Linked DNA regions of Homo sapiens. The protein of the gene in region 2 purifies or fractionates together with the protein of the main gene of each other region. This does not show direct contact. Each region holds a gene or a part of one and is shown on either strand. Other genes may lie near its edges.

Region 1 (3,650 bases), on a different chromosome or scaffold from region 2:
CACAGTGGACTCCCTGCCCCTTGACTCAGGCTCAGACACATCACTTGATCTGGTCAATGAAATGCTGACTTGAAATGCCCTTTTGTGCCTCTGTTGTAACTATGAAGGGCCTCTGCCCTGGAGGGCGCCAGAAGGACCACACATGGAACTGACCTGAGCTCAACCTGTAGCAAAGAGTCACCAACCCAGTTAAAACCAGATTGAGGCAGAGCCACCAACCGAGAAAGCTCACATCTGCCAACCTCCAGAAGCATGAGCAACAATAAATGACTGCTGTTGAAGGCCACTGAATTTTTTTTTGAATGTTTGTTACGCAGCCTTATTATGACAATAGCTGACTGATACAGGTGGCACTCCCCGAGAGAATCCATAAGTCATTTAAAGACAGCCTTTCCTTCTAAGTTCATAAAGAAATCAGTTACTTACCAGGCTCACCTTTTTTCTTTGAACCAGACTTCTTCTTGGCAGGAGCCTCTTGCTTTGGTGCCTCTGGGCTCTGGGCCACATCTGTATTTCTGCCCTGGACAGAAGCTGACTCTGTCTTTTTACCCTGATTGGCAGCTGCGTCTGCCTTTTTGCCTTGGTTGGGGGACCCTTCTGCCTTTTTGCCTTCACTGGGGGACCCTTCTGCTTTTTTCCCCTGGTTTGTAATACCCTCTACCTTTGTGCCCTGATTAGCAACCGAATCTGCCTTTTTGCCCTGGATGGGAGCTCCCTCTCCTTTTTTGCCTTGGTTGGGACTCCTTTCTGCCTTTTTGCCCTGAGCCCCTTCTGTCTTTTTACCCTGATTCTGGGCTCCCTCTCCTTTTTGGCCCTGGTTCTGGGCTCCCTCGGCCTTTTTGCCCTGGTTCTGAGCCCCCTCGGCCTTCTTGCCCTGGTTCTGGGCCCCCTCAGCCTTCTTGCCCTGGTTCTGGGCCCCTTCTACTTTTTTGCCCTGGTTCTGAGCACCCTCGGCCTTCTTGCCCTGGTTCTGGGCCCCCTCGGCCTTCTTGCCCTGGTTCTGGGCCCCCTCGGCCTTCTTGCCCTGGTTCTGGGCCCCCTCGGCCTTCTTGCCCTGGTTCTGGGCCCCCTCGGCCTTTTTGCCCTGATTCTGGGCCCCCTCGGCCTTTTTGCCCTGGTTCTGGGCACCCTCAGCCTTCTTGCCCTGGTTCTGGGCCCCTTCTACTTTTTTGCCCTGGTTCTGAGCCCCCTCGGCCTTTTTGCCCTGGTTCTGAGCCCCCTCAGCCTTCTTGCCCTGATTCTGGGCCCCCTCGGCCTTCTTGCCCTGATTCTGGGCCCCCTCGGCCTTCTTGCCCTGATTCTGGGCCCCCTCGGCCTTCTTGCCCTGATTCTGGGCCCCCTCGGCCTTCTTGCCCTGGTTCTGGGCCCCCTCTCCCTTTTTGCCCTGATTCTGGGCCCCCTCTGCCTTTTTGCCCTGGTTCTGGGCCCCTTCTACCTTTTTGGCCTGGTTCTGAGCCCCCTCGGCCTTTCTGCCCTGGGTTGGGGCCCCCTCCACCTTTTTCCCCTGGTTTGGGGTTGTATCTACCTTTTTACCCTGGTTCTGGGCCCCCTCCGCCTTTTTGCCTTGGTTTGGGGTTCCTTCTGCCTTTTTGCCTTGGTTTGGGGTTCCCTCTGCCTTTTTCCCTTGGTTTGGGGTTCCCTCTGTCTTTTTGCCCTGGTTTGGGGTTCCCTCTGCCTTTCTGCCCTGGTTTGGGGCTCCTTCAGCCTTTTTGCTTTGATTCTGAGTCCCCTCCGCCTTTTTGCCCTGAGTAGTGCCAGTGGCTGGTGTGTTGCCCTTGGCACCCACTGGGGGCACCACCACCATCGGCACCTCCTTGGGAGCAGTTTCCAAGATGGCAGCCTTCGAAGTGAGAACCTGGATGGAATTCACTACAGAGCTGACAGCTGGTTCCACTTTTGCCACTTTTTTCTCCTTCTTCTTTTTGTCCTTGGGGGAGGAGGCCAGCTTCTCCTGGGGCATGGCTGGAACTGTGGCGACAGGAGCAACGATAATGGGGGGCTGCACTGGGGTTGGAGCCACAGCCACAGCAGGAGCCCGCACTGGTTCTCGAAGGAGGACAGTCACATTGGGGGCTGGATCATGATCAGGTATCTTCCCATTAGGTTTCTCTTCCTTTTTCTTGGTCTTTCCTTTCTTCTCCACTGTTTTCTCCTTCTTTTTCTTCTCGACTTTCTGGTGGTGAGTTTTCGCCATCTCCTTGCGCTGGTTGGCTAGGGCTTCTTCATATGACGTTTCCTTCATGGAGAAAGTCGACACCAGGAAGATGCCAATGGCAGAAACAACCATGAATCCTCCAAAGACCACAACCCCCAAGGTTTGAGTGTCGTAAATATCCATCCTGGCTTGCTTTCCTTTCACCTGTCAAACATACATGGAGGTTACTATTTATAGAAATCAAGGCCTTCAACAGTTTCTATCCCCACCCTACCACCAAACTTCAGGTTTCACTAATTCTTTCTTCAGGCTAATAAATTCAGAGAAGAAACAAACCCAGGCACTCTCTGATGTCCCACATTCTCACCTGCTCCTCTTTAGGAGTGAGCGATTCGTACCCAAGGCATGAGCAGTCCCCATACAAAGCAACAGCAGAGTCAGAGCAGAGTGGAGGCCTATCTCTGGAGCACACACGCCCAGGAGCCTCAGCAGCCATGACCCTGATGCAAGATATTCCCCACCCAAGGTCAAAGATGCACAGGAGCACAAACACAGGCCAGGTGTGAGACCATGGGGAGTGGTGGAGACTGTAGTAAAAACACCCGCCCCCACCTAAAATTAGACAGTGACACTCTGTCATGGCCGATTGCCCTAGAAATGTGATTGCTGAGTTGGAAGATGTTTTGATTTTTCATGTTAGGCCAGACACTTTTAAAAAATTTTTCTCTCAACGTGAAATTGACTGATTTAAAAAATATGTGAACCGAACCAAACCAAACACATCTGCAGGCTTTCAGCCACAAGCATTTTAGCCAGCAGGCCCACAGTGTGCCATCTCCACTCTGTTGTTTCCCTCTTCCCCAGTGCCAATAAATGCTGCTACCCAGGATCAGAGATAAAAACTTCTGCATTACAATCCTGAAACGTGTTCAAAAATTCAGTGAGGGAAAATAGCCTTTTGCCAGCAATAGCTCCTGAGGAGTTATGGAGCCTGCAATTTGCATGTTGGGAAACAGGAAGAATCAGTCTTGGGAGGCCCAGAAGATGCCAGGTTTGGAATTTCACATCCAGAAGCTGCACAGAGGGTGAGGAGACAGTGTCAGCAGGCCCCTCTGTCAGACAACACTCCCCAAACCATAAGAATGAACAACACCATTCTCACTGCCTATGGACCAAAGTCCAATGGGTCAGAGGCATCCAGGTTCATACACCTTCCTGCCACAGCCCGGGCTAAGTTCGACTTCACTGAGGAACTCCAGGAGGTGTATTTATTTGGATACATTCAAGCCAGTCCCGAGTCTCTCTAAAGAAGATCGATGGAATGAGCAAAGAGAACACAAGGGTAAGAAGGGGTGGTTAAGGGGAGGTAAAAGGAGGTGGAAGAGGAGAGGAGGGGAAGTGGACAGGCCTCCCCCAGCATTGCCCTGCAAAACCTCTAGATGCTGTGGGAGACTGGGTCCAGGCTGCTTAGTGGCTCAGATACTGAGATTCTTCT
Region 2 (3,650 bases):
CCAACAGCATCCACTTGCTCTTGCTTACGTCCAAGGCCTGCCTGCCATTTTCCTGCAGCTCATCCAATCCACTATATGTGCTAGTGACACAGCCCCAAGATTTAGACCCACACAGGACCCCATGAAACACTACAAGGAGATGGAAAACCACAGTCAAACCTGACTTTGACTTGCTGTGAGAACAGGACACAGGAAGTGCTTAAATTTCCCATAGATGATGGCCCCTAAAACATACTTGGGCCGAAGCAGACCTGATAGATATCTACAGAACTCTCCACCCCAAGTCAACAGAATACACATTCTTCTTAGCGCCACATAGCACTTATTCTAAAATCGACCACATAAATGGAAGTAACACACTCCTCAGCAAATGCAAAAGAACAGAAATCATAACAGCCTCTCAGACCACAGTGCAATTAAATTAGAACTCAGGATTAAGAAACTCACTCAAAACCGCACAACTACGTGGAAACTGAACAATCTGCTCCTGAATGACTACTGGGTAAATAACGAAATTAAAGCAGAAATAATGATGTTCTTTGAAATCAATGAGAACAAAGATACAATGTACCAGAATCTCTGGGACACAGCTAAAGTAGTGTTTAGAGGGAAATGTATAGCACTAAATGCCCACAAGAGAAAGCAGGAAAGATCTAAAATCGACACCCTAACATCACAATTAAAAGGACTAGAGAAGCAAGAGCAAACACATTCAAAAGCTAGCAGAAGACAAGAAATAACTAAGATTGGAGCAGAACTGAAGGAAATAGAGACATGAAAAAACCTTCAAAAAAATCAATGAATTCAGGGGCTGGTTTTTTGAAAAGATCAACAAAATTGATAGACCACTACCTAGACTAATAAAGAAGAAAAGAGAGAAGAATCAAATAGACACAATAGAAAATGATAAAGGGGCAATCACCACTGATCCCATGGAAATACAAACTACCATCAGAGAACACTATAAACACATCTACACAAATAAACTAGAAAATCTAGAAGAAATGGATAAATTTCTGGACACATACACCCTCCCAAGACAAAACCAGGAAGAAGTCAAATCCCTGAAAAGACCAATAACAAGTTCTGAAATTGAGGCAGTAATAGCCTACCAACTAAAAAAATCCTAGACGGACTCACAGCCGAATTCTACCAGAGGTACAAAGAGGAGCTGGTACCATTCCTTCTGAAACTATTCCAAACAACAGAAAAGGAGGCCAGCATTATCCTGATTCCAAAACCTGGCAGAGACACAACAAAAAAAGAAAATTTCAGGATGAACATCGATGTGAAAATCCTCAATAAAATACTGGCAAACCGAATCCAGCAGCACATCAAAAAGCTTATCCACCATGATCAAGTCGGCTTCATCCCTGAATGCAAGGCTGGTTCAACATACGCAAATCAACAAACATAATCGATCACATAAACAGAACCAATGACAAAAACCACAATTATCTCAATAGATGCAGAAAAGGCCTTCGATAAAATTCAACACCGCTTCATGCTAAAAACTCTCAACAAACTAGGTATTGATGGAACATATCTCAAAATAATAAGAGCTATTTAAAATAAACCCATAGCCAATATCATACTGAATGGGCAAAAGCTGGAAGCATTCCCTTTGAAAACTGGCACAAGCCAGGGATGCCCTCTCTCACCACTCCTATTCAACATAGTGTTGGAAGTTCTGGCCAGGGCAATCAGGCAGGAGAAGGAAATAAAGGGTATTCAATTAGGAAGAGAGGAAGTCAAATCGTCTGTTTGTAGACAACATGATTGTATATTTAGAAAACCCCACGGTCTCAGCCCAAAAACTCCTTAAGCTGATAAACAACTTCAGCAAAGTCTCAGGATACAAAATCAATGTGCAAAAATCACAAGCATTCCTATGCACCAATAAAAGACAAACACAGAGCCAAATCATGAGTGAACTCCCATTCACAATTGCCACTAAGAGAATAAAATACCAAGGAATATAGACCAGTGGAACAGAACAGAGGCCTCAGAAATAACGCCACACATCTACAACCATCTGATCTTTGACAAACCTGACAAAAACAAGCAATGGGGAAAGGATTCCCTATTTAATAAATGGTGCTGGGAAAACTGGCTAGCCATATGCAGAAAACTGAAACTGGACCCCTTTCTTACACCTTATACAAAAATTAACTCAAGATGGATTAAAGACTTAAACGTAAGACCTAAAACCATAAAAACCCTAGAAGAAAACCTAGGCAATACCATTCAGGACATAGGCATGGGCAAGGACTTCATGGCTTAAACACCAAAAGCAACGGCAACAAAAGCCAAAATAGACAAAGGAAATCTAATTAAACTAAAGAGCTTCTGCACAGCAGAAGAAACTATCATCAGAGTGAACAGGCAACCTACAGAATGGGAGAACGTTTTTGGAATCTATCAATCTGACAAAGGTCTAATATCCAGAATCTACAAGGAACTTAAACAAATGTACAAGAAAAAAACAACCCCATCAAAAAGTGAGCAAAGGATATGAACAGACACTTTTCAAAAGAAGACATTTATGTGGCAAACAAACATATGAAAAAAAAACCCATCAATACTAGTCATTAGAGAAATGCAAATCAAAATCACAATGAGATACCATCTCACGCCAGTTAGAATGGCGATCATTAAAAAGTCAGGAAACAACAGATGCTGGAGAGGATGTGGAGAAATAGGAATGCTTTTACACTGTTGGTGGGAGTGTGAATTAGTTCAACCATTGTGAAAGACAGTGTGGCAATTCCTCAAGGATCTAGAACCAGAAATACCATTTGACCCAGCAATCCCATTGCTGGGTATATACCCAAAGGATTATAAATCATTCTACTCTAAAGACACAGGCAAATGTATGTTTACTGCAGCACTATTTACAATAGCAAAGACTTGGAACCAACCCAAATGCCCATCAATGATAGACTGGATAAAGAAAATGTTGCACATATACACAATGGAATACTATGCAGCCATGAAAAAGGATGAGTTCATGTCCTTTGCAGGGACATGGATGAAGCTGGAAACCATCATCCTCAGCAAACTAACACAGGAACAGAAAACCAAACACTACATGTTCTCACTCATAAGTGGGAGTTGAACAATGAGAACCCATGGACACAGGGAGGGGAACATCACACACACACCCCAGGGCCTGTGGGGAGTGGGAGGGGAGGGAGAGCATTAGGACAAATACCTAATGCATGCTTAAAACCTAGATGACAGGTTGATTGGTGCAGCAAACCACCATGGCACATGTATACCTATGTAACAAACCTGCACGTTCAGCACATGTATCCCAGAACTTAAAGTTAAAAATAAATACTTGGGCCGTTCAACAGTTCCCCTCCCCCACAAGCCTTTTTCCAGAACAGCATTGTTCAATAGGACCTTCTGAGATGAGGAAAGAGTTCTGTAACTTCACTGTCCCACCTGGGAGTTACTTGTGCCTACGGAGCATGCATTTATTCGTTTATTTAGAGACAGGGTCTCGATCTGTCACCCAGGCTGGAGTGCAGTGGCATAAACACAGGTCACCGCAGCATCGACCTCCCGGGCTTAAGTGATCCTCCTGCCTCCACCTCCCAGGTAGCTGGGACCACAGGCACATGGGTGCCACCACATCCTGCTTT
Region 3 (3,650 bases), on a different chromosome or scaffold from region 2:
TTACTCCAAAACTCTGTATAGCCATCTTACAAGATGACCCCAAATAGAAGCTACCAGTGATTTTACAATGATTTTCTGGAAATGAATTTTTTCTTAATAAATTTTTATTGAATGAATGAAATGTCCGGTAGTAATTTTTTAAAACTTTATTTTTCATGTTATAGAAATATAATATTGCTTCTAGGCATTTTGAAATATATGGAATACTAATATAGTAAAAACCTAACTAAGAAAATAGTTCCATTGCATGTGAAAATGTTGTTTTTTTTTCTGTATTTTGGGTTTTTTTGAGATAGAGTCTCACTTCATCACCCAGGCTGGAGTGCAGTGGCACAATCTTGGCTCACTGCAATCTCTGCTTTCTGGGTTCAAGTGATTCTAGTGTCTTAGTGTCTTGAGTAGCTGGAATTACAGGTGTGCACCACCACACCCGGCTAATTTTTGTATTTGTAGTAGAGATGGGGTCTCGCCATGTTGGCCAGGCTGGTCTTGAACTTCTGGCCTCAAGTGATCTGCCCACCTTGGCCTCCTGAAGTGCTAGGATTGCAGGCATGAGCCACTGCACCCAGCCTGATGTTACTTTTTATAAGTTAAAATTATGTATCAAAGCATGTCTGTTTCTTTGCTACAGCATAGGTGGCTTCTTGTTAAGAGTTGTTTTTCATGCCTTATTGCTACCTTCTAGGCTTTGAGTTTTGTTAACAGTAACTCTTTGAAGCAAATTTTGGCCAGATACACAAAGACCAAGTCTTAAACCAATATTAGACCCAAGATAATACCCCTAATGGTAGCAATCCTAAGGGCTCATTACCACTGTTTTGTTGCTACAATAAATCTTTGGGAGAAGCTTATTATTTTTTAATAATTATTTAAAGATACACAGATCTTGGCTGGGCGCGGTGGCTCACGCCTGTAATCCCAGCACTCTGGGAGGCCGAGGTGGGCGGATCACCTGAGGTCAGGAGTTCGAGACCAGCCTGACCAACATGGAGAAACCCCGTCTCTACTAAAAATACAAACTTAGCTGGGTGGGGTGGCACATGCCTGTAATCCCAGCTACTTGGGAGGCTGAGGCAGGAGAATCGCTTGAACCCAGGGGGTGGAGGTTGCAGTGAGCTGAGATCACGCACCATTGTACTCCAGCCTGGGCAACAAGAGCGAAACTCCATCTCAAAAAAAAAAAAAAATACAAATCTTAAAACAAAAAAGCTTTATTTTGATTTCCTTATTCTTTATTTTATTGTTCAGGTAAGTAGTCTGTAGTAAGAGCAGTTTAGAGATTCTGCAGTGTGTTTCCAACAACCACCAATTCTCTGATTCTACCACATGAACTGGTGTCCTGCTATTCAATGCTATTCTGACACTGACTACCCTGAATTAGTATCAGACTCCACAAGTTTAAGGACTCATTCCTACAAAATTGCCCTCACTTGAGATGCCATTTGCAAGTCCTGGGTCCCCAGGCTTACCCACATTTCTGCCTTCTGTCCAAGCTGGCTATAGATTTTGGGGATGCCAACAATGCCACTCCATGTGATCATTTGCTAGGGTGAGTCATAGAACTTAGGAAAATGCTATACTTGGGATTACAGTTTCATTATAAAGTATACAATTCAGGAACAGCCAAATGGAAGAGAGGCATATGTGGGGAGTAGCGGCAGGGCTCCAGAGCTTCCATCCCCTCTCTGGATACGCCACCTCTCCCAGCACCTTGATGTGTTCACCGAATTGGAATATTCCTTACCCTCAGTTTTTCAGATTTTTGAATTGAAGTTCCATCACTTAGGCATAATTGATTAAATCATTGACTTCTGGTGATTGAGTGTAATGTCTGTCTCCCTTCCCCTCCTAGGAGGTCAGGAAGTGGGACTGAAATTTCCAATCCTCTTATCACTTGGTTGGTTCCTCTGGAGACCAGCCCCCATTCTGAAGCTAGATAGGAGCCTTGTCATCAGTCACCTCATTAGCATAAACTCATTATAGTCAAAAGAATCTTGTTATGAATAACAAAAGACAACCCTGTCACTCAGGAAATTGGGAGGTCAGTGACAGGAACTGGGAACAAAGACCTAATATATGTTTTTATTATACCGCAGACTTAAACATCTGACATGGTAGACTGGATGGTTTGTTTCCCAAGATAAACTGAGAAACATACAACCCAGGTATCAAAAAGGAAAATTGTGGGTGTGGTGGTGTACACCTGTGGTCCCAGTTACTTGGGAGGCTGAGGCAGAAAGATTGCTTGAGCCCAAGAATTCAAGGCTGCAGTGAGCTATTATCATACCACTGTGCTTCAGCCTGGGTGACAGAGTGAGACTCTGTCTCTGAAAAAGAAAAGAAGTTATTTAAAAAGAAAATCTTGGCCAGGCGCAGTGGCTCATGCCTGTAATCCCAGCACTTTGGGAGGCTGAGGCAGGCGGATCACCTGAGGTCAGGAGTTTGAAACCAGTCTGGTCGACATGGTGAAACCCTGTCTCTATGAAAAACACAAAAAATTAGCCGGGCATGATGGTGGGCACCTGTAGTCTCAGCTACTCAGGAGGCCAAGGCAGGAGAATCACTTGAACCCAGGAGGCGGAGGAGGTTGCAGTGAGCCAAGATTGCACCACTGCACTCCATCCTGGGCAGCAGAGTGCAACTCCGTCTCAAAAAGAAAGAAAGAGGAAATCTTGTTTCTCTGGTGTATTAAAGGATTATATAACATGATCAAGAGGAACTTACCCAGGAATGCAAGGGTCAGAACCTGTCAATGTAATACACCATATTAATAGACGACAAAACCATACAGTTATCTCAGTTCACACAGAAAAAACATTTGACAAAATCCAACATTCTTTTATGATTAAAACAGTCAGCCAAACGCAGTGGCTCACACCCGTAAATCCCAGCACTTTGGGAGGCCGAGGCAAGTGGATCACCTGAGGTCAGGAGTTCGAGACCAGCCTGGCCAACATGGTGAAACCTCGTCTCTACTAAAAATACAAAAATCAGCCAGGTGTGATGGCAAACACCTGTAACCCCAGCTACTCGGGAGGCTGAGGCAGGAGAATCGCTTGAGCCCAGGAGGTGGAGGTTGCAGTAAGCCAAGATCGTGCCATTGTGCTCCAGCCTGGGCGACAGAGCAAGACTCTGTCTCAAAAAAAAGTCAACAAACTAGGAATAGCAAAGAACTTCCTTAATCCTGTAAGTGACATCTATAAAAATACCACAGCTATTATTGTACCTGTCCCCTAAGATCAAGAGCATGGCAAGAATATCTACTCTGGCCACTTCTGTTCAACATTATGCTGAGTTCCAGCCAGAGCTAAAAAAAAAAAAAAAAAGAAAGAAAGAAAAAAAGCCATCCAGAGTGAAACAACTATTTATAAATGGTAGAATATTTTATATAGAAAATCCTTAAGAACCCACAAACATATACCCAGAAAACTCTTAGAACTAATAAACAAGTTCAGCAAGGTTACAAGAAATGAGATCAACATATAAAAATCAGCTTTATTTCTGTACACTAGCAATAACCTAAAAATTACATTGAGAATAAATTTCCATTTGTAATAATATCAAAAGGCAAAAAATACTTAGGAGTAAATTTAACCAAAAGAGTGTAAGACTTGAACACAGAAAACCACAAAATATTGTTGAAAGAAATT

The links.
Region 1: the proteins of MAP3K15 (region 2) and RRBP1 purify together in Homo sapiens (affinity purification with mass spectrometry, with the first as the bait; one large-scale study listed by BioGRID). This does not show direct contact.
Region 3: the proteins of MAP3K15 (region 2) and RAB10 fractionate together in Homo sapiens (co-fractionation; one large-scale study listed by BioGRID). This does not show direct contact.

What each region holds. Positions count from the first base shown.
Region 1 is NC_000020.11:17,658,170-17,661,819, forward strand, and holds part of RRBP1 (ribosome-binding protein 1), read right to left. Parts: intron 2,360-3,650; 5' UTR 2,339-2,359; coding exon 427-2,338; intron 1-426. UniProt on the Homo sapiens protein: Acts as a ribosome receptor and mediates interaction between the ribosome and the endoplasmic reticulum membrane.
Region 2 is NC_000023.11:19,508,996-19,512,645, forward strand, and holds part of MAP3K15 (mitogen-activated protein kinase kinase kinase 15), read right to left. Parts: intron 1-3,650. UniProt on the Homo sapiens protein: Serine/threonine kinase which acts as a component of the MAP kinase signal transduction pathway. Once activated, acts as an upstream activator of the p38 MAPK signal transduction cascade through the phosphorylation and activation of several MAP kinase kinases.
Region 3 is NC_000002.12:26,110,435-26,114,084, forward strand, and holds part of RAB10 (ras-related protein Rab-10), read left to right. Parts: intron 1-3,650. UniProt on the Homo sapiens protein: The small GTPases Rab are key regulators of intracellular membrane trafficking, from the formation of transport vesicles to their fusion with membranes.